3 separate regions of the Homo sapiens genome follow, and all the other regions are reported to be linked to region 2. Evidence: microRNA targets listed by miRTarBase, many of them from high-throughput screens and not tested one by one. Region 2 holds a microRNA gene; each other region holds the end of a gene's coding sequence.
What was found. The annotated mature microRNA hsa-miR-212-3p reads UAACAGUCUCCAGUCACGGCC and lies in region 2 at 1,887-1,907, shown strand. An mRNA with a match to its seed (bases 2 to 7 or 8) in the 3' UTR can be bound and repressed. Matches are read on the target gene's strand: a 7mer-m8 pairs with bases 2 to 8, a 7mer-A1 pairs with bases 2 to 7 and ends in A, and an 8mer does both.

Region 1: miRTarBase lists ASF1A as a target of hsa-miR-212-3p. Seed matches in the 3' UTR shown: 8mer at 2,528-2,535.
Region 3: the mRNA of RBP2 is a reported target of hsa-miR-212-3p. The part of its 3' UTR that is shown has no 7-base or 8-base seed match.

The regions. Positions count from the first base shown.
Region 1 is chr6:118,906,543-118,914,344 of GRCh38, forward strand. ASF1A (anti-silencing function 1A histone chaperone) reads left to right here. Exons shown (of 4, transcript NM_014034.3): 4 at 860-2,629. The coding sequence ends at 1,072. It overlaps MCM9 (minichromosome maintenance 9 homologous recombination repair factor), which reads right to left. Exons shown (of 14, transcript NM_017696.3): 7 at 6,753-6,878; 8 at 5,108-5,227. Among named protein-coding and RNA genes, the nearest start is that of ASF1A, 16 kb to the left of the region's middle.
Region 2 is chr17:2,044,395-2,052,196 of GRCh38, reverse strand. It overlaps MIR212 (microRNA 212), which reads left to right and starts at 1,817; the gene lies at 1,817-1,926. It overlaps MIR132 (microRNA 132), which reads left to right and starts at 2,189; the gene lies at 2,189-2,289. LOC124903896 (a long non-coding RNA gene) reads left to right here and starts at 2,248. Exons shown (of 2, transcript XR_007065576.1): 1 at 2,248-3,036; 2 at 3,439-3,490. RefSeq lists an enhancer at 93-988 and silencers at 1,534-1,683, 1,694-2,493.
Region 3 is chr3:139,447,194-139,454,995 of GRCh38, reverse strand. It overlaps RBP2 (retinol binding protein 2), which reads left to right. Exons shown (of 4, transcript NM_004164.3): 3 at 166-267; 4 at 1,830-2,112. The coding sequence ends at 1,880. The region is part of intron 3 of COPB2-DT (COPB2 divergent transcript); the gene reads right to left. Among named protein-coding and RNA genes, the nearest start is that of RBP2, 25 kb to the left of the region's middle.

The DNA of each region.
Region 1 (7,802 bases), not on the chromosome of region 2:
TATGAAAGTTTTATGTTTGTTTTTCCTATGAATACGGTTATCTCAAAACACCTATACGCTTTATCTGCTATTCTTAGAAGTTAAACTAACAGTCTTAAATATTTCTGGTACTGAAAACAGCTTAAATTCTGAGTGAGAAGCTGAAATCTAGGATTCAGCATTCTTAAAGATACTTAGTATTTTCTGATTTTTCACTGGGAACTATAACAGTTTGGTAACTGGTGATTTTGTGAGAGTGCAGAGTAAATGAAGTTGAACCATGCAAGAAAAATTACATGACAATAGAATAGAATGTTCTCATGTTCTTTCTGATAATAAGGCCGGACTATTTTTCACCCTTGTTGTACCTTCCATTGATCCAATTTGTTATCCCTGAAGCACCTTATATAGCACAAAAGAAACAGGACTGTTTCTAAGAATGAGCCATCTTTAAAAGGTGTAGGAAACCATTAATAATAAGTTGTATTTGACAATTTTTCATTTTCCTTTGAAAACATACCAATCTAAACAACATAGTAGCTTGTTAAATAAAGCATCTTCTGAAGCATTCATTTTCAAAAATGAGGAGATTCTTTCTTTTAGAAAACAGAAGTATAGGAGTTAAATAGTTAAAAAGCCAGATGAATCCCCTCAGATTCTCCGTATCTTGTTTCTGTTAATCTAAAATAACTTCTTTGCTACAGCCCTAGTCGTTACATCTTATTAGTTATATTTAAGGTACTTAACTTGAATTATACCTTTGTATATGAACTTAGCCCTTTAGGAGTACTAACATGAACCATTTTATTAAGCTTCTATTTGTATATGGTGATTTAACTTTCTTAGTGTTTACCATTTGTATGTTTCCTTTTTCCTCTAGCTTCAAAGGAATATTTTGGCATCTAATCCCAGGGTCACAAGATTCCACATTAATTGGGAAGATAACACAGAAAAACTGGAAGATGCAGAGAGCAGTAATCCAAATCTACAGTCACTTCTTTCAACAGATGCATTACCTTCAGCATCAAAGGGATGGTCCACATCAGAAAACTCACTAAATGTCATGTTAGAATCCCACATGGACTGCATGTGACCACCTACCATCCCTTTAGTACAAATTAAGCTATTAAAAATACACAGAACTATTTCCCTGAAATTCCGTAAGTACATAGTCAAAACACAATGTGAAGAATTTGTTTAAAAACATCCTGTAGAAAGTTTATAAGAAAACCAGTATTTGAACAAATTGTGGAATATAAATACAACTATTTTTAAGTAATTTTTTTCTCTAATGTGTTATTTTATTTGTTCTGAAACTAATCTGATTAAAGCATATATATTATTTTCTTCTCCTTTATATGTAATGAAAGCACTTATAAAGAAACAGGAATCATTAGACCAGGTTGTAAAGATGTCTTGGCCTCCCAGACAGTCTTTGGACCACTATTTTACTGGCCTTTGAAAGAACAAAGTTTACTTCAACTAAAATGTTTCTTCCTGTGAAGACATATGGTATCATTTTAATTTAAGGGGCAGATTTCCATTCTTTTTTGGCATGTCCTTAAAAAGAGGATTTGAAATCAACTATATGCTACCAAGAACTTTAGGATCCAATTTTCCAAGCCACCGTGAAGCCTCTTATGGCTACTATTATAGTTCATGAGATGTTGGACAGCATTTGGTTTGTTTGGTAAGAGAAGAACAAATATGGCTAATTGTTAATAAGGTCCCCTGGCTATGGTTTTTGTTCTTATAACAGAGTTTAGAATATCAGAGCATTTCTTGAATCATACATCATTATTGTCCAGTGAATTCAAGACCAAATACAATATCGGGAGAAAATACAAACTCCCTGTGTTTAAGAATAGGGGATTACAATGGCTCAAATTGGTTCATTTGATTTCTAAAAATACCATGACCTTTAAAAATTCTTTTAATAGATCATGTTATTGGCAGTATTTATATAAAAACCATGGATTTAGAAAGGTATATTTAGCTTTATTATAATAGATACGTTACTATTTTGGAAATATATATATTTTCACACCTGTAGTACTCTTCCCCATTTCCTCTGACACTCATGCAGAATGAGATCAGGCATATTTGTGGTTGACATACTCTAGATAGCTTTTCCAACAAATCTTTGAAAAGCAATCTTGGAAAGGAATTCATTAACTAAATGGGGTAAAAGGTTTCTTTTTCTTTGAGAGTTAAGTCCTTCCTCAAAAAATTTTCTTATGCTCCATAAAATTGAGGTAGAATATTTTCATTATTCTTGCAGCTAAGCAAGACAGCCATATGATGCAGGTTATGCAGTGCCTTCATATCTAAAACTTTTATACTGCACTTTTTAAAGCTTTTATGTTGAGGAAAGGAAAAGGGCATTTGTCTAAACATGGATTCTGAGTTGTATATATTTCCTATCATTCTAAAAAAGTGAATTTGTGAAGCAAAGTTTTGCCAGATGTTAAACTTTGAATTTAATATACCAGATTATTAAAATATTGTCCATTAACTAGTTCATAGATTTTAAAAGTAAAATACTTCTGACTGTTAAAACTATATAAAGAAAATCTCATTTGTCTAATTGCAATTAAAAGAAAAATGTTAAAATATTAAAATGAAAATAAAAGCATTACTTTCCAACAAAGAGCTCAGTGGTTAATATAATAGGAACAACATATGTGCTTATTAGAAATAAAGCATATACAGCCAAATCACCAAATAAAGCCATTTACTGCTGAGTTTTTATTCTGACTAATTATAACAATCTATTTGTAGTGACATCAAAGGGTTAGGTTTTTGTATCAAGTTGTAAATGGACAACCAATTTTCACTTAAGCTTGGGACATGCGAACCATTACCTTTTGTTATCTTAAATTTTATCACTCTAAGAATTTTTTTAATGACTGAAAATAGATTTAGACTTCAAACATTAGAAACGTAAGAAACTGTAGCACATAAGTTTTTTTTCCACCCGGTCTAGCGTCATTTGCCAATACTGTATCTGAAGAACTATTTTCCACCCTTTTGCTCATAGTAAATAGCTGTGTCCTAAGAATATAAACATGAACCAATGACTTATGCCACTAAGATGGAGGCATTAAGGGTATTATTTGGGCTGAGAAAACATTCCAGAGGTCTGAAGAAGTATGCATGCATTTATTTGCCCATTCATAACCTTATACAACTTTAGGCTCCCATATAACTATACCCTCTAATTTTAGGATTTGGGGTTTCTAGCTTTCCCAAGAATGTCTATGGCAGCAGTTATCAAAACTTTTTACCATAATCCATGGTATAAAAAACTTAGGGCCGGGCGCAGTGGCTCACGCCTGTAATCCCAGCACTTGGGGAGGCTGAGGCGGGTGGATCATTTGAGGTCAGGAGTTCAAGACCAGCCTGGCCAACATGGTGAAACCCTGTCTCTACTAAAAATACAAAAATTAGCCAGGTGCGGTGGTGCACATCTGTAATCCCAGTTACTCAGGAGGCTGAGGCAGGAGAATCACTTGAACCCAGGAAGCAGAGGTTGCAGTGAGCTGAGATTGCATCACTGCACTCCAGCCTGGGCGACAGCACTAGACTCTATCTCAAAAAAAAAAAAAAAAAAAGACTCCATAACAAGTTTATATTTATGTTAAAAAATTTCATGAAAACACATCCTTAGTGCACCTTTACTATGCAGTATTTTGGTTTTTTTTTAATTGTATTTTACTTTGAAAGTGCTGGTTTTGACCCACTGAATTGACTTTTATGACTCTAATGGGTTGCAGTACACAATCTGAAGAAAGGCTAGCGTGGCCCTTTGGGTAGACCAGAAGTAGCAATAACTATTCTATAACCGTAAAATTTATATTCCCTATACTTGTTCTCTCATATTTGGATTATGATCTTTGCATTAAAAAGGAGGAAATGTGCTAATATACTTTTATACTAATTCACTAATCCAGTGAATCAGCAGCAATTCACTTTCAAACTGCCCAAATACTCTGAAATTACCAGTCATCCACTTAGATGGCTTGGACTCATTTCTTGACACTCTACATAATTACTTAGGAAACATTCCACATAATTACTTGGGAAGCATCTTTATTTGTTGTTGGTATCATTTTATACAGAACTCTAGAACACTGGGTCATACGGATTTAAAACGCATGGGAAATATTCTTTATATATTCTTGCCTAGTATCCTGAAGTTTGTCTACCCTTCTCAATTCCAAAAATCCATTCTTGTCAATGGTTAATATACTGTTGAGTTATATTTCAAAACCTGAGACCTCCTTAACAGTTTTCCACTTATACAGGACCATTAATTGGCCATTTTCTGTTGTATGATAAATTTTAAAGTGTTAGTTTCTCATTAGAAATTTGAGCATTCATTAGCCCAATGGAAGTTAATCTGACTCCCTTAACAAGTAGCAAACATTTTTAAAATGTGTGAAGCCAAGGGTCTGTTTTCAGAAGAACAGAAACATTACCCAATCAAAACTGTAAAAATACAAAATAGCATCAAACATATTTTTTAAAATAATTTTTTTCTAAATTCCCTGGGTCACTTTATTTATAATCAAATCTTGACATTCTACCTGCAAAGGCTTTTAAGTGTACTTGCTAAAGAATCATTACAACTTATGAATGAAGCTCCACATTGCAATGATGGAAGTATATTTTCCAAATATTAATAAACATTCCCTACCTAAGAAATTTCAGTAGGAGCTACTGTTGCCTATCAGATTTATGAGCATGAAAATGCCTTAAGCTCTATACCATCTATCTACTTGGTAAAGTGAAATATCCCCCTCTTTAGTTTAACATTCCAGTTGCTGAGTCTTGATAAAATGCCAGATGATACGGACTTTTTCCTGCATAAAAGTATGAAGGTAATCACTAGAGAATGAGAAAATTGAATAGGATTGTTCAAAACTAAGATGCAAAGTGAAGGTGGAGCTTGCAAGATATTTTCTTAGAGCTACCAAAATAACATTGCATATTTCCTTCCATTTTTAGTGGTAACTCAAAAATTAGCTTGAAATTTATCCTATTATAGGTAGTTTTTCATTAGAAAAAACCATTGTGTTAACTTCTGAAGTAATGTTAAATTACTTGAAATTGTCACATACAATACCTGCACTAGTAGATCCAATTCCTGTGGTCAGCACAGATCTTGGTGTAATCTTTGCTGCATATTTGAGGAACTGAGATTTCCCTGTGCCAGGATCCCCAACCAATAAAAGATGAGATTCTCCTAGGAAAAAGCAAATACATGAAGTTTTAAATTTCTATAAAAGGGTCCATTTGGAATGCCAACAAAATATTACATAGTGTTTTTACTGTGTACTTTTACATAGGGTCGTTTGAGAAAGGATTTAACTAGAAAATCTTCAGAAAGTTAACTGTCATAAACAGTCCTTAATTGATTACTCAATGTGACATAGAATCTAAATTCTATTAATAAATTATGTGCTATTTCCAGATGTTCAGGCCTATGTTTAACATTTTAAAAAATATCTGGGGCCAGGTGCGGTGGCTCACACTTGTAATCCCAGCATTTGGGAGGCCAAGGCAGGAGGGTCACTTGAGCCCGGAAATGTGAGACCAGCCTGGGCAAGACTCCATGTCTACAAAAACAAACAAAAAATTTTTGGCTTATAAAGTTTCTGATTTACTCTATTTTTAAATATCAAACTACTATGATTAAATCCTTGCATACAAGTCATATAAGTATTTTATTCTATTTTTATTTAAGCACTTAGAAGTATTAGGGATTTTACAAGTACTTTACAAATATCAAATTATGATTCTAACAGTTAAGTGAAGACCTTTTCATTTATGAAAATTTTAGTAACTTAGTGAAATATGTATCTTAAAATAAGTACTCATTTTGCAAATGTAACATAAATAACGTGCATATCCTATGGTACATATGATTTCACTGACCAAGTTTCTTCAGCAATTCTCAAGTGTTTCCTAAATACATTAATAGGAAACCCCTATTTAAGCTCAACATTTGGCAGAGTGCCTTGCAAAACAGTAGGTGATCAAAACATATAAGGACGCCTTATACTTACTATTCTATACTGTACTATATGGTTTTCGAGTCCCTACTAACAGCCTGATTTATAACAATGCCCTTTTAGTCTTTTGGTTTAATTTTTGGTTATTATGGCCCACGTACAGGGCCGTAATAACCCGTATGCCAGACTCTGGTTAAGTGTGTTAGCTGCAAAAGAGCTTTCTGCCATCTGGACATAATTATACACTTAAGAGTAATCTTTTCTTGAAGGTGTGACCTGCAGCAGCACCCCATGGCAGATGGCACATTTGCTATCTACCAGCAGAAGGAGAATCAGCAGGCAGATGACTGAAAGCAGCAGTCTAAGAGAAACACAGTGACAGCCACAGATGGAGAGACGCTGACTGGAGACATTAAAATACACTATTTCTAATCTTTTTCCTTTTGAAAACAGACCGGGGATCCAACAAAAAACACAGTAATAGAAACAAAGATTTTATTTTGTGGCATCCTTATAGGCTATAGCAAAAGTATATGCCATAGAAAAATGTAACTTCTTTCAGTCTTTCTGGAACTCTAGAAAGTAGCTTCTGATATACAGATGCTAGACTAAGTATAAGATATTCAGACAACTGTCAGTTTTATAAGATTACAATTGGAAAATAAAACCCAACGAGCAGTTTTTATTTGGGAAAGAAAAAGTTCTAGCTTCCATCCATGTGTCAATATTACTCAAAATTTCTAAATAGGTACTAACCTCTGACCCGTGTTCCTGTAGCATCAGTCCTTTGAATCCCACCAGCCAGCACCATGGCCACAGCAAGCTTTACTAGATACATTCCAAACACTTGAGGGCACAAGCTAGCCAATATTACATTCCTTCCTAGGAAAAGCAGAAAGATCAGAAATCAGCAATAATTTTCAAGAAACCCCAACTGAAATTTCCCTTCCTTTCCTATCTGACCATCCTCATTTAAATATACTCTACTATGTGAAGTGATCAGGAGGTCCAATTCCAAATGACCAACAGGATTAAAGGAGGAAATAACTTTGTTTTGGTTCAAAATGTCCTGTTTTTTTGAGACAGGGTCTCACTCTGTCACCTAGGCTGGAGTGCAGTGGCGTGATCATAGCTCATTGCAGCCTCAAACTCCTGGGCTCAAGCAATCCTTCTGCCTCAGCCTCCTGAGTAGTTGGGACAGCAGGTGTGCAGCACCACGCCCAGCTAATGTTTTTTTTCTTTTTTGGAGCAACGTGGTCTCACTATGTTGCCCAGGCTGGTCTCACTCCTGGGCTCAAGCAATCCTTTCATATCAGCCTCCCAAAGTGCTGGGATTACCACCCAGCACTCATGAGTGGTATGAGCCACCGTATGTACTTTCTATGTGACAATTTCAGTAAAATTACTCCACTGCCTAAATAAAAGGAAGGTATTCAATCTCAGAAATAATGAGTCAGATCATACAAGTCAGTAATCTTTAAATACAGAGGTAGCTGGAGCTCATGAAGCTGCTCCAAAGGTATAAGAAATAAGTAAAAAATCCACCCTCCAAGTCAATTCAGCATTTGCTCTGAGCAGTCTGGTAAATTCTGTTTTCTCTGGAACAAAGTTACAGGGGCATCAAGGCATTAAGAAGATCACTGCACACCACAACCCTAGCAGTGTAAGTATGAGATCTCGAATTCTTCTGATCATGTGCTTTAAATAAAAGAACATCACTGTTTGGGGTTCTGTTTTCAGAAATAACGCACCAAATCTGAGAATCTGCCTATCTCTTCCATGAATAAAGCAGGTATTTCATTCAGT
Region 2 (7,802 bases):
CATTTCCCCGCTCCCAACCAGGGGAACTGCCCCACAAGTCATGGGCTCTCCCTGCCAATTCTGGTCTCCGGGAACATTAACTTCTCCAGGAAACCGTCCTCCTCATCCCCTGGGGGCCCCTCTTGGCCAAGCTGCTGGTCTCCTTCACTCTCTATTACCCTAACGTGAGCTCTGGGAGCGTCCATCGTGCCACAAATGGTCCGAAGGTGGGTCCTGGATGCCAGGCTCTGGAGCGTGGCACTGACAGCCTTTCCTCTCTCCCTTGCTGAGGCTGCCCATTCCTCTCACCCCTACCTCTGGCGCGTTCCCCCAGCTCCCTCATAGAGGATCCCGTTGCTCATCATTTCTGGGGAGGTTGGCCCACCTTCCCCAACTTCTCTGCCGTCCCTCGGGTCTCCAGCTCCTGGGTGGTACCTGAATCCCCGCTGGGCCTTCCCTCCCAGGCCCAGGTTCCTCCGCTAAAGACTCCTGGGCTACTTTGGGCTCCCCTACTCTTCTTCTCCCGGCCCCCGACGCCACAGCCCTCGCTGCGCCCCAGGCCCCCACGGGAGTCCAGCTTCCTCTCCTGCCCACCCTGCAGGACGAGAGGGTGGCGACACCGCAGTGGCCTTGCGGGGTGTGACGGCAGAAACGTCAGGTCCAGGAACTGAGGAGGGGGAAGGGGCTGCCACGTGAAGACCCCCAGGAGCCGCGGGGCTCCGGAAGGAGAGCGTGAATAAGCTCGAAGGGCCCGCCGCGCCCCTCCGCGCCGCCTCCCCGGCCCCAGGCCCGCGGTTCCGGAAAGTTAACCCCTTGTCGGCTGGGCAGGGGCGCGGCTCCCCCTACCCCGCCGCCGCTTCCGCGCCCCCTCCTCCCCTCCCGGTCGCCTCGGTCCCCACCCCCCGCCTCGCCACTATAAATAGCCCCTTTTCCCATTTCCTAAATTCCCCGCTGACGTCGGCAGCGCGTCAGTGTGTAGGAGCCGCGGCCGCATGAATGAGCCGCCGCACGAGTACTACGCGCGCCTATAAAAGCCGCCGCGCCGGCCAGGCTGCGGGAGGCGACCGGGCAGTGGCGACGCGGCCCGCCAGGTAAGCGGGACGGACCAGCCGCGGAGGGACAGATGTGCGGACACGGACGGGAGGACGAGGAGGGGACGGGCAGGCGGCGGGTGGGGCGGCCCCTCCGGGGTGGGGATGGGGGCGGACGGGGGGCACCGGGGTCCCCTCGCGGCTGCGGAGCCGGGGCCAGAGACGACACGAGCCCGCGCAGCACCTGCCGGCGCCCGATGGACACGCAGCTACTTCGGAGGAGCATCGAGTGGAGGACCGACCTCGGAGACCCCCCCCCGGCTTTCTTGGGGCTCCTGCGCCATTCTCCCAGGAAAGTGAGGCGAAGGTGCTGGCGCCCCAGGAGACGCGCCCCCTCCTCTCCCTCCCTGCGGCGCGGTGACTCAGCCTCGCTGCCCGGGCCGGCTGAGCGGGGGTGCAGGCGAGAGACGGACGCCCACCCCCGCTTCCCCGGCCCTCCTGGGACCCCCGCCCCGCATGGCGTCGGGCGCCCCTTCCCGGCAGGTCCCGTCCAGCGGGTCCCGCGGCGCCCACGGCTTCCCGCCTCTGCGAGCGGAGCTGTCCTCTCAGGACCGGGGGGGCGGGGCCTCCCAGGTCCCGCCCCGCCCCCACGCCCCCGCCGGAAGTGCCCCCTCTGGGACATCTTTGACGTCACGGCCCTCTGACGTCAGGGGCCGCGTGCCTGGTCGCGAGCGCCGGGCGGGGCAGGGCGGGAGACGCAGGGGAGGCGGAGCAGCAGAGCCCCCAGCCGGGGCAGCCGGGGCGACCGGGGCACCCCGCCCGGACAGCGCGCCGGCACCTTGGCTCTAGACTGCTTACTGCCCGGGCCGCCCTCAGTAACAGTCTCCAGTCACGGCCACCGACGCCTGGCCCCGCCCCAGGACCGCGGCCCCGGCCGCCGCCGCCGCGCCCGGGGACCCCCAGTCCCCGTCCCTCAGGGCCCCGCCCCCGGCCCGCTGCCTGCGCCGCCGCTGTCCGCGGTGCTGATCAACGCAGGCGCCGCCATCGGGCCGCCCCGTCCGGGTCCCTAGGGGCTGCGAGGGGCGGTGGCCCACGCGCGCTCCTCAGCCCCCGCCGCCCCGCCCGCCCCCCCGCGGCCCTGACGTCAGCCCGCCCCGCGCCGGCGCCGTCCGCGCGCCCCGCCCCCGCGTCTCCAGGGCAACCGTGGCTTTCGATTGTTACTGTGGGAACTGGAGGTAACAGTCTACAGCCATGGTCGCCCCGCAGCACGCCCACGCGCCGCGCCACGCCGCGCCCCGAGCCGCGGGCTGGGGACGCGGAGCAGAAGGAGGCGGGGGCGGCGAGTCAAGATCCCACGTGCCCGCGCGGGTGGCAGGAGGTGCTGCGCAGGGAGGCGGCCTCCCGGGGCCGGCGGCTGAGTCCACCGAGGCTCGAGCGCGCGCGTCCTGCGGAGTGCGTCTGGCGGCCAGCCTGAGGCCGTCCTGTCCTCCCGGCCAAGGTATCCCAGCCAGGGCTCGGCGAGAGAAGGGGTCGGGCTGGGACTCGGGTTCTTTCGATTTCGGTGAGAGGGAAGCCACTGGGACCAGGAGGCTTGGAAGGAGGTTTGTCTCCTGGGGCCTGAAGACAGTAGAGGGAGGAAAGTTTTCTGAGATACTCCACAGCCCCGTTCTTCCAGGAACCCCTAGCTGAAGTGGGCATTGGGCGAAGAGTAAACTCTTGAATCTTTCCCTCTGAGCTAGGAGGATAAGAAGGGTCCCCAACCCTCTGGAAGCCAATGAGCTTGTAAAGTTAACCTGGTCCGCGAAGCGTCTGAACAGATCAGCCTGCTCACCTCAGCCTATCTCTAGGTGCTGGATTCCAATCTGAGACAGTTTCTCAAATTAGCCCTAAAGAGGAGTGAATACCACAGGGGCTGAAGTCCTCTGGTGCGGATGAAGTGTGAACAAGGATCTCTAAAAATATTATTGTATATGTCGCCTGCCTCTGCCAACATCACCCACTACAGGGGATGTCTATTGAATATCAGGTGTGAGACTTCCCCAGAGATAGTGTTGGGAATGGTTAATGCAACCCAGCCCACGACACGTTAATCCAATTTTTCTTAACGTCTCACGCCCCACCCCCTCCTTCACTCCCCACCCGGCTCCTTTGTGAAGTACTTCTAAGACACTCGTGCCGGTTTCCCAGTTAATCAACACCCACATGCTAGCCATCCCACCTCCCCAGGGCCCCGAGGTCTTGCAGATTAAAACGCACTTGCTTCTGGGTTCCAGGGGATGTCAGTGGGTGGACTGCAGTGGACTGCTGGGTGTAGTGCTCTGGGAAGCCAGAGGTCCAACCTGGCATTATCAGCAACTGGTGGTTAAGGGGCCATATTCTGTTTCTGAGCTTTCTGTAAAACGGGATAATAATCTCTTCTCCTCGGCAGGTGCACTGTGAGGATTAAATAGGATCATGTAAGTAAAAATCCAAAAACAGCAGAATGTTATTTTGATCTTAAGTATTCTGTTAGGCTACTACATGTTTGTGAAGGGGTGGTGTTGGGAGGGGACCCCAGCTCTGTGCACTTAGGCAGAATGAACGGGATGTGGGGGGTACACCTTGAGCTTTAGGCTATATATATTTATTGTCTAATATATATATAATCTATATTATATATATGTTATACATACATATACTTTTATTTTTTTTCTTCTGAGACAGTCTCGCTCTGTCGCCCAGGCTGGAGTGCAGTGGCACTATCTCGGCTCACTGCAACCTCCGCCTCCCGGGTTCACTCTGGGCCTGGGGCTGTTGAGAGGTTCCTTGCTAAGGGGGTTCTCTCTCCTAAGAGCTCTAGGAATCCAAGGTGGAATCAGAGGTGGAAAACAGAAATGGTTGGGATATTCTGAGAAGAGGTCAGAATGTGGTCAGAGGGGAAAGAACCAGAGGATTGACCGTACGTCAGGGTTGTTTAGCATCTTAGAAATCATTTAGGGCAGGGCACAGTGGCTCACGCCTGTAATCCCAGCACTTTGGGAGGCATAGGTGGGAGGATCTCTTGAGCCCAGGAGTTCGAGACCAGCCTGGGCAATACAATGCGACTCCCATCTCTACAAAAAAGAAAGAAAGGAAAGAAGAAAGGAAAGAAAAGAAAGAAAATTAGTTGTGCACACCTGTAGTCCCAGCTACTTGGGAAGTTGAGGTGGGAGGATTGCTTGAGGCTGGGAGGTTGAGGCTGCAGTGAGCTGTGATTGCACCACTGTACTCCAGCCTGGATGACAGAGTGAGACCCTGTCTCAAAAAAAAAAAATCATTATTTAGGGCTGGGAGACATGGCTCATGCCTGTAATCACACCATTTTGCGGGGCGGGGCAGAGGCTGGAGGACTGCTTGAGCCCAGAAATTCGAGACCAGCCTGGGCAACATAGTGAGACCCCATGTCTTAAAAAAAAAAAAGCCAGTGTGATAGGTGGCACCTGTAGTCTCAGCTAAGCTACTCAGGAGGCTGAAGCGGGAGGGTCACTTGAGCCGAAGAGGTCGAGGCTGCAGTGAGCCATGATCCTGCACCTGGTGACAGAGGTAGACCCTGTCTTAATAATAATCCAGCCTGGCCAATATGGTCAGACTCCGTCTCTACTAATAACACAAAAAATTAGCCAGCCATGGTGGTGCTTGCCAGTAATTCCAGCTGCTTGGGAGGCTGAGGCACTAGAATCACTTGAACCCAGGAGACGGAGGTGCAGTGAGCCGTGATCGTGCCACTGAACTCCAGCCTGGGTGGCTGAGTGACACTCCGTCTCAAATAATAATAATAATAATGGTACCTACCTCATGAAGTTGTGAGATTAAACATGAAGTTGTAAGGTTTAAGCTATATATATTTATTGCCTAATATATATAAAATATATATGTGTTATATATATATAATTTTATTTGTTTTTTTCTTCTGAGATGGAGTCTTGCTCTGTTGCCCAGGCTGAAGTGCAGTAGCATGATCTCGGCTCACTGCAACGTCCGCCTCCCAGGTTCAAGCAATTCTCCTGTCTCAGCCTCCTGAGTAGTTAGGACTACAGGTGTGTGCCACCACCCCCAGCCAATTTTTGTAGTTTGTTTTTTTTTCTTTTTTTTTGGAGACAGGGTCTAGCTCTGTCTCCCAGGCTGGAATACAGTGGCACAATCACAGCTTACTGCAGCCTCAAAACTCCTGGGCTCAAGTGATCCTCCCACCTGAGCCTCCCGAGTAGCTGGGACCACAGGTGCATGCCACCACACCCAGCTAACTTTTAAATTATTTGTAGAGAGGGGGTCTCACTATGTTTCCCAGGCTGGTTCTGAACTCCTGGGCTCAATTGATCCTCATGCCTTAGCCTCCCAAAGTGCTGGGATTATAGGCATGAGCAATCGCACCTGGCCCTAAATTAGGCCGCATTAAAGCTCTTGCTTATTACAATGTCTGGTATACAGTTATTACTCAATAAATGCTCTTCTGGCCGGGTGCAGTGGCTCACACCTGTAATCCCAACACTTTGGGAGGCTGAGGTGGGCGAATCACTTGAGATCAGGAGTTCAAGACCAGCCTGGCCAACATGGCGAAACCCTGTCTCTACTGAAAATGCAAAAATTAGCTGGGAGTGGTGATGCACACCTGTAATCCCAGCTACTCTGGAGGCTGAGGCAGGCGGATCGCTCGAACTCAGGAGGCGGAGGTCGCAGAGAGCGGAGACTGTACCACTGCACTCCAGCCTGGGTGACAGAGCGAGACTCCGTCTCAAATAAGTAAGTAAATAAATAAATGCTATTCCTATTTCTATCCTTCAGACCTAATTTTCCTTTGCTATAAATTGAAAATGTTTAAGCAGTGATTGTTCTGGGGAGCTTGCTCCCCTCCCTGGTGGGTTGCAAGAGAGTCACACTAGGGGTTTTTCAGATAACACACCCTCACCCGAGGCTTTCATTCAACCCCTAAGGCAGTGGCTTTTCAAATCCCTGCTTGGGAATGATGGGGGCAATTTGCCAAAATGCAGATTCCTGGGTCCCAGTGATTCTGACTCAGTACATCTGGAGTTGGCCCCAGAATTCAAGTTGGTTTTTTGAGATGGAGTCTCACTCTGTCACCCAGGCTGGAGTGCAGTGGCACAATTTCGGCTCACTGCAACCTCCGCCTCCTGGGTTCAAGCAATTCTCCTGCCTCAGCCTACCAAGTAGCTAGGATTACAGGTGCATGCCACCACGCCCAGCTACTTTTTTTTTTTTTTTTTTTTGAGACAGTTTCGCTCTCGTTGCCCAGGTTGGAGTGCAATAGCGTGATCTCGGCTTACCGCAACCTTTGCCTCCCAGGTTCAAGCAATTCTCCTGCTTCAGCCTTCCAAGTAGCTGGGATTACAGGCATGCGCCACCATGGTTGGCTAATTTTGTATTTTTAGTAGAGACAGAGTTTCTCTCTGTTGGTCTGGCTGGCCTCAAATTCCCAACCTCAGGTGATCTGCCCGCCTCCGCCTCCCAAAGTGCTGGGATTACAGGCATGAGCCACCACGCAGGGCCAGAATTCAGGTTTTAACCAATGTTCTGGATGTAAATGGTACACAGAATCTGCGTATTGGGGGTGGGGAGGGGCACAACCCCCTAAGAGTCTCTCTTGCTCCTGGACGGCATGATGGGAAGTGACCTGTTCCACTTGTCGAGAACTAGTGGACCCCATGTTTCCCTCTAGCTTGGACACTATGGTTCTCAGGAGGAATCCTCACCCCCGGCCAGGAGCCCTTCTCCTCCACCTACTACTGCTGGGCTCTACCTCCCCCACTTTTAATTTTAAGCCTTGGCTCAAAATTCACTCCCCAATATTTCTCCCCTTCTCTCTACTTTCGTCCTCAATAATCCCAAGCAGCTGGGGTGTACAAGTCGTTTTCACCTCTTGGGACCGTGCTAAAGGGGGCAGCCTATGATTACCATGAGGGTATGGGAGCCCTGAACTGCAAATCTATCATTTCCAGAGAAGCCAGAAATCTGAAATTTTCTGTGCAATTTCTGAAACTTTAAATCAGAATTTTTTCTAAAATTCAATGGGTCAGATACCACAGTCTGTGTAATCAATCCATTCCAAAGTCTCCTCCTTTTGCTAAAGGAGAAGATTCCTTAAAACAAGGCAGAAGCCAACTGAAGCAAGGGAGAACCACCTCCCACCCCTCCCCACACACACTTTCCACACCCAGTAACTAGGTCTCTGGGCGGATAATTCTGTTTTGTTTTGTTTTTTTTAATTTTGGACAGCTAATCTCTGTAGTGAGGAACCCAGAACTTTCGGTAATGTAAGGGATATTAGTCTGGTTGTCAGAAAAATGGGCTGGAGTATTTGTGCTGTGTCCCTGACCATAATTCCTGCTCAGTTGCTTAGCTCCCTGGCAACTATGTCTGAGGGCTAAACAGGAGTTGGTGTGATCTTCCAGAAAAAGAACAGGCTTCTTGTCTTGCAGAGGCAGGAAGTCAGAAAACAAGAGTGTGTGTGTGTGTGTCAGGGGGTGGGGGGTGTCAGGTGGCACTGGAAATGGGAGGGAACTCATTAAGAGTGGGCAATTGGCCAGGTGAGGTGGCTCACGCCTGTTAATTCCAGCACTTTGGGAGGCCAGGACAGGTGGATTGCTTGAGCTCGCAAGTTGGAGACCATCCGCACAACATGGTGAGACCCCTTCTCTACAACAAATACAAAAATTAGCCAGGCATGGTGATTTGCGCCTGCAGCCCCAGCTGCTTGGGAGGCTGAGGTGGGAGGATGGATGGCTTGAGCCCGGGAGGTGGAGGCTGTCAAGATTGTGC
Region 3 (7,802 bases), not on the chromosome of region 2:
ATGTGGAAAATGACATTGGAAGCATCTTGGCTCCCTGAGGCTGAGGGCTCTGCCCTTCGAGTAAGCAAGACCCTGAAATGGCTGCAGGAATTGCAGCTGCAGGTTTAGATTTGTTCAGTCCCTCAAGACCATGTGTTTGATTTGCCTGGGAATCTGTCTTTACAGGCACTGGTCACCTGGGAAGGTGATGTCCTTGTGTGTGTGCAAAAGGGGGAGAAGGAGAACCGCGGCTGGAAGCAGTGGATTGAGGGGGACAAGCTGTACCTGGTAAGTACTGGGTTCTGCTCAGCTCACTTCCATTGTGCTTACACACGCTACTGTGGTCACCTAGCCAGGTGTTTTGACAAGAAAAATGGCCCTGCACTCCTACCCCGAGCTCCAGCCAAATGCATGTGGTCATATAGTCAGAAAGCCATTCCCATCTGGCTCAGGGGACTCCAGGAAGAAATCTATATGGCTGTTTCTGTGAACAGCTGCAATTCAAAAGAAAGTTCAAAATGCTGAGTTAGGAAGCAGAGATCCAAGGAGAAATACAGGGAACCTGCTAAAGACCAGCTGGGGAGAAATGTGAGCCACAGAATTTAGATGCCCTGGAGGAGGGTGGGACAGGGCCTTCTCATAATGATGGGAGCCTGGGAGAGAGAGTGGGGTGGGGAGGAGACAGGACCCACTCTGCCTGGGAACTGCCACAGGTATTGACCTCTCTCCATGAGGTATGTCCTTCTGACCCCAAAATATTTTAAGGTAATTTGGTACTAGAACAGAGCAGTAGGAACAATAACTGATATCCTTAAATATCTTATACCTGTTGAGACAGCTTAATTTTTTATTCTTCAATCTTCAAGGCACTTCATGGGTTCAGCATTCAAATGGTGAAAAATCTCTCACTCCTTCATCCTTTTTCGCTCATTTGTAAATGAATGGCTCATTCAGTGAATGGCTCTTCATTCATTAATTCACTCACCTTTGGAATGAGGCAGGTACCTGGCTCCAATGTCAGTATTCAGGTTGCCACAGTGCCCTTCACAGCCAGCCTTGCTTCACCTGAGATCTTTATTTTGAAGGCAATGTCAGCTAATGATATATGGGAGGCATTTATCGTGTTTTGCATTGATGGCTTTCCCTACCTGCACTGGTTTGGATGGTGGATTTTTCTAATTGTAATACAATCCCCAGTGCTCTCTGTGGCTTAGACAATGGATTCACAGTCAACTGCAATGATTGTGGTGGTCCTTCCCACACTCATGTTTTTCCCTCCTCCTTCGAGGATCAGTGAGGGTCAAATAAGGCCTGGGCTCCCTCTATCTGGATGAAAAGCGGGACCTTGTCGGCTGCACAGGCAAGCCTGGGAAAGCCCTTCTGCACCTCACACCCTGCGGGTACCTGCGCCACCACCAGCCAATGTTCTAATCACCAGAGGCCAGAAAGCCCACAGGGTGGAGGGGCAGCTCACTGGCCAGCATCTTTTCAGGCCCCTACCTTCCAAACACTTCTCTACACTAGGTCCTTTCCTTCCTCATGGCTTCGCTGCCTTTTATAAATTAGGTCATGTTACTTTAATCATGGGAGTAGGAGAAATCCTGCCCAAGAGGGTCATTTCTTTGCATTTTTCATTTTTATAGTTGTTCAAGCTCAATTCAAGTGTCAAAATCAAATTACTGCTACCTGCAGGGCATGCCCGCTGATTGGGTCTGTGAGATGCACTTTGCCCAGAATACCTAAGTGTCCTCTTTATTCCAACCTCCCACCCCCAGATACCAAGGGGGCTGAGGGCTGGGCAGAAGAAAGGCCTGGCTTGTTAGACCCTCACCCACTTTCTGACGTTGCAGGAGCTGACCTGTGGTGACCAGGTGTGCCGTCAAGTGTTCAAAAAGAAATGATGGCGACGTGGGAGGCCTGCCAAGCACAAGCTCCCCACTGCCCACACTGAGTGGTCTACTGGCTTTGAGAAACAGCTGTGGGGACCTTCCCACTCTTGACAGAGCCCCATTAAGGCATCTGGGTGGGTTTTAAACAGAATGCCTATGTAGCAGTGATAGACATATTCCCCTCCTTTGAAACCTAGCATTAAATGGAAAAACAAAAATTACTCCCATATTTTGAAACCCTTTATATGGATCTCCGTTTATTTCTAGAGCTGTCAGTTTTACCCACAGACAGAAGAGATGACTGTCTGTGTGGTTTTTGCATGTTTATTAATTTGTTTCAATTTATTTTATTTTGTTTCTTTTTTCTTAGCTTGTTTGTTGGTTGTGGGGGACATGGGGGGTGGGGAGGAGGGCATTTTACCTAGAAACATTCTGTGGCCCGCACAGCATCTGCTACTGATTCTTGAACATCCTCGTCTGAGACTCATTCCTTTGGATGCACATTATTTCTCAAAAGTTCTATTTTAGGATACATATGCCTCCCAGTCTGCAACTTGCCCTGGGCAGCCTGGGCAGAGCTATTCCAACAGATCTGCAGTGCCAGCTGCTCTTGGCCCAAGCCAGCCCACTGTCCATCAGCCCTGTGCTGTGGAGGGGGTCACTAACTACAGGTCTACTCAGACTCAGTGTAACTTCTCAACTACTGCCACATGCCAGGTGCTGCAAACTCTGGGGCCAGGAGGCCTGAATTCAAGTCCTGCCCCTTCACTTCTTAGCTGGTTGACCATGGGCCTGTCATTTGGCCTCTCTGTCCTCATTTTCCTCTATCATAATATGAAGAAGAGACAAAACTATCATCTCCTCCACTGGGTCATTGTGAGGATTAAGCAATTTAAAACATGCAAAGTGTTTGGAACGGGCCCTGGTATGTGGTAAGGATTCAGTCCCTGTTAGCCCTGGTCCTTCTGCTGAGTTACCCCCTCCACAGTCTCAGGGGTCCTGGTGAGCAGATGCTAACTAGAGATAGGTCAATACTTCCACAACCTTCTGGTGCCTTCAGAACATTAGGTTCATTATTCTGAGCAGAATTGTATTTTGCTGCTGGATACGCAGATGGAATAGTGCACCTGGAAGGACAGAGTGGTTAATGCAGACGGATTTGTGATGGATCATTCACGGGGTCCTAAATTCATGGGGTCCCACAGGTAAAAGGCATGTCCTTCATCCTTCTGTCCCACCATTAGGCAAGCATTCTCTTTGTAAAGCAGGTTTATCCCCAGAGGGGTAGCACATGGTGTTAGCACACTTTGGTATGATTTGAATGATCAGATCTTTTCATTGATCCTGAACATCCTAAATGGGATTAGGGGGATGGATAGAAAGGCTGCAATCCAGCCATGTGGCCCAGGGCCAGCCTTGGCTCAAGCCCTTTGATCAAGCCATCATGCTATGGGCCTCCTGGCAAGCTGTGCTCCCAAACAACCAAGCCATGTTCCTGCAGCAAGAAAGCCAGAAAAGTGCCTGGCTGGAGCCTCATGTTAGCCGGGAGAACGGAGGAGGCGGAGTTCTCTCACATGCATGGCCTTTTTGGTCAAGTCAGTGAGAGGCGCTGGGGAGGAAGGGGAGCCTCCTGAGGAAGTGCAGGCCTCCTCTCCTGGGGCAGACAGGGAACCAAGTAGAGGGACCAGTGAAGTGGGCCCTTTGTCCCCACCTTCCTAGAGCTTCCCCAAGAGCCCATCCCCACTCCTATCACTCTCGCCAGGCTTGCCCTTGCTCGCCACAGGCTCAAATGACCTCTCATCTGTCCCTCAAGAAAACCCTATTGAATGAGGTTGTGTCTGAAGCCCACTGGGGACTCACTGTGAAGTATTCTGCGCAGGTAAGGGGTTAGTATTTATTTTTGATCCTGGGTTAAGATTCCATGAAAAGGTTTATGGTCAAATAAATTTGGAGAACTATATCCCCTTCCTAGAAATTCACAATGAGAATTAGCATTTTTAAAGCTCTGACAAGTCCTCCAGCAAAGACACCCAGCCTGAAACCATGGAATCCCCTTCACCCAGAAGAGTTCCACATCCACAGTGTGCTTTGGAAGCAATGAACTCATTCCCAACATGTGCATGCCACTTTTTCAATTATACATGGCAACAATATACTTTAAAACTCTCATTTTCCAAGTGGAATAGTCTCAGTATATTTTTTCCACAAATGAAAAGTAACTGAATGAATTAGTTTACCTATAGTATGAAAGACTCATGGTGGCTGTATTCATTCTACTGATAATTCTTTTTCAAAGAAGATGCATCTGAACTCAAAGTAGTAAAATTTTAGGTCCCATTGAAAAGCCTGGGCATCTATTTTGGGCCAGGGCCTTCTTTTCATTCCAGCACTCACTGTGGATGGGATAAGTCAAGTTGCCTCTCTCATATTTCTGTTCCCTCAGCCTGTTTCAGAACCAAACCATGGCAGGAATGCTTCACTCCAGCACCAACAAGCCTAGTCGGGAATACAGTAGAAAAGATTAAATTTTAAGACCCATCTAGGGCTTATACTGAGGACAGGGCAGGCCAGTGGGAAGCACTCTTGGAACCTCAGAACCCTACCTCCAGGGAGTATCATGAGAGACATTGGGGTTAGCCATTAACCAGTGGGGCCTGTTCTTGAAAGTTAAAGAAAACCTGTCCTTGAAAGTTAAAAAAAAAATTCAGGCTCACAAATGGGCAGCATTGCAGTGTGGTTCAAGCTTGGACTTTGGCATCAGCCCTTGGTTTGAACATGGACCTTGTCACTCTCCAGCTGTGTGACTATGCAGCAGTTACTTCCCCTCTCTGAGCCTCCCCTTTCTCATCTGTAAAGTAAGGATTATAGAACCTGCTGCATGGGAAGTAGTAAGGAATGAATAAGACCCTGTGGTACAGTGCCTGAAACAACAGTCAATTCTCTCCCTATATACAGATTCTCCTCCCCAATCCCATATATTTATCCATTGTAATACATATATAATGAGGTGATTATTTCCTTCATGAAAACTCTTTGCTTTCTAAGAGTTTTAATACTGAGATCACTTACTGTAGTCATTTCCAAATGTGAAGATCAAACAGAAGGACTTATTAAAAACACAGATTACTGCCACCTCCCCTGCTCCTCTAATCTGGTTCTGAGGTCAGGGACAGGGCCCTGGAATATGTATTATTTCAAGCTCCCCAGTCGAGTCCTCTGCAAGTGCTTAGCAAATACACTGGTAAACCCAGCCTCGTTCATCCAAAGCATGATCATTTTAAACATATTTTCCCACATATGCACACCCACATTCTCAAGCAAAAGCCCAAGTCCACCTCCATAGGTGAGTAAAGTCAGTGGTCAAAGGTCATGTGAACCACTCACACATCTTTCTGCTGATGCAGTATTAGGGCCCCTGACTGTGTCCAACGAGTCCTATAAGAGAAGCGACGTCACCCTCTCTAGAGCAGCTTCATAATGGGGGAGATGTTTAGGCCCTGGATAATGGCAGTGGGTGATGGGAACAGGGTATGGGTGATGGGAACAGGTGGAGAAGGAACCAGCACAAGCAAAGGCGGGAAGCAGAAAAAGGCAAGGAGGGTTGGGGAGAGGTGGGGTGGGGGTTCTTGCCCATGGTGGAAGGCAGGAGGACCAGGATCTGGAGGGCTGTTCTCTCAGGCTTGGGTAGGTCATGAACACTTGTTTGGTCTCAGTCAGTGCACCAGGAGAGCCAGAGCTTCTGAGGAGAGTGATGTATCTGGGATTCTGCAGCTCAGAAAATGATACCCCAAAGTATAGCACTTTGGTGTGCTGAGTACTTTGAACTAAAGGACATTGGAAGACCTCAGAAGCAACCTCAGAACCATGGTCTCTTTGACTTCCTGCTTCCTATCTCTCACCCCTCATTTCTCCCTCAAAGCAAGTCATAGAAACATAATTCCTTGTACCCTAGGTGGGTCATAAAAACTGGAACCCCTCTCCCCCAAAGTAAGCCATGAACCCTGGAAATACTACTCTGACCTCCCCATCCCCTTCTGTCTAGGAGGTGGCCAAAAAGAAATTCTCTGACCTACCCTTATCTGATATTAGATCCTAAGGCCCTCATTGCAGAGGGGTCCTGCATCATACCCAGAAGGAAGAAATGCTACAACAGAGAGGCCAAGAAGAATCTGAACAGACAGGCCTTGCTGGGTTTTCCCATTCAGTCTATTACTACTGGATTATACCCCTTTTGTCCAATACAAAAAGAGTACATGGCTGTCCACTCTTCATCAAACCTAAGCATAAAAACAGTTTCCCCTGGGTCTTGGGGTCTTCATTTTTGAAGTCTCCCATATCACATAAAAGCTTGATTAAATAAATGTGTTATGCTTTTCTCTTGTTAACCTATCTTTTGTTCTAGGAGTGTGGTGGGGAGGAAAGATGTCACTCTTTTTCATCCCTAGGAGGACATGAACCAGGAATGCACTCCAGTCATTGTTGACAGGACAGATGAAGGTGGGGAGAGGAACCCAGGATCAAGTATTTCAGGGGAGAAGCAGTGAGGGACCCATATTAGGGATAGGGAGTGGTCACAGGAAGGAAGGGAAGAACAAGAGAGGTGCTTTAAGGAGCTGCCACACTAGGCAGGGCTGCATAAAGCTCACAGAGGAGGTGAGGGCATAAAGATGGTTGTGGGTGTGGGGACGAGGGAGGACAAATACACACAACACAGCTCAGCAGTGGCAGAGGGAGAGGGGGGTGCCAAAGGGAAGATCACGTGTTGAGTTAAGCCTGTTGTACATGAGGTGACAGAGCAATGACTGCAAAGGCTGGCACGCTCTGTCTCCCTCAACCACTGCCACCCTCCAATGACTAATTGTTACCCCCTTCAAGAGTCCAGCAGCTGCTGCTGGCTGAGAAGGGAGGGAGGTTTTGGCTGGGGCCAGAGCTGATGAAACAGTGACTGCCAGTTTTGAGGCTGGGAGATGCTGATGCCACAAGGGATAAGGGGAGCTACAGAAGGGACAGGAGGGGAGAATGAGGAAGAAGAGAAAGGAGGAAGGAGGAGAGGAGAGAATGTTGCAGGGAGAGGAAGGGAAACAGAGGGGAGAGGTGAAGAGGAAGGGATGAGGGGGTAGAGGAGGAGAGAAGATGGGAAAGGAGGGGAAAGGGTAGGAGGAAAGGGAAGTGAAGAGGAAGGCAGAGGGAAGAGGAAGGGAGAGGAGAGAAAGAGAGAGGAGAAAAGAGCAGAGGAGGGGGAAAGAATGGGAGAGAGGAAAGCAGGGAAGAGGATAAGGCAAAGGAAGAAGAAAGAAGAGGAGAGGGAAGAGGAGGGAGAAAGACTGGAACAAGTAAGAAGAGGGGAGAGAGATAGGAGAAGCTTGGAAAGAACACCTGCTCCTCACCAGCAAGAGATGAAAAGAGGAACAGGTGGGAGCTATGTCTTGCCTACCCAGGGTTCACAGACCACAGTCAGAGCAATAGCAGCTGAGACAGACCCCAGGGGCTTTCTGTAGCCTCTGTTGTTTTTTTCTCCAATGCAAAGGAAGATTCATTTTAGAACTAGGCAATTAAAGCAGAGCTAGTGCACCCACAGGAGGCTCATCCTGGGCCCTCAACTGGTCTTCAAGGCAAGGAATAGATCCAGGTTGTAGGCTTAATCCTTTGTTAAGCACCTCCTCTGTCCCTATTTGAGCTGTTTCCAGGACTAGGATGTAGGTGCCCATTCAGACCAGGTGAAATACTCAAAGTCCCATATTTGGTAAGTAGCAGAGGCAGAATTTGAACACAGGGGTTCTCTCTCCAGAGCCCTAAGGCCCTCCACACAGGAGGCGGCCCCTGACAGGGACAGGGCTATCCTTCCCCCAGCAATCTCCAGAGCCCTGGCATCTTCAGAGACCTCTAATCCCATTTCTTCCCAATCATTTGAAACCAGGAGTGTTAGATAGTTTT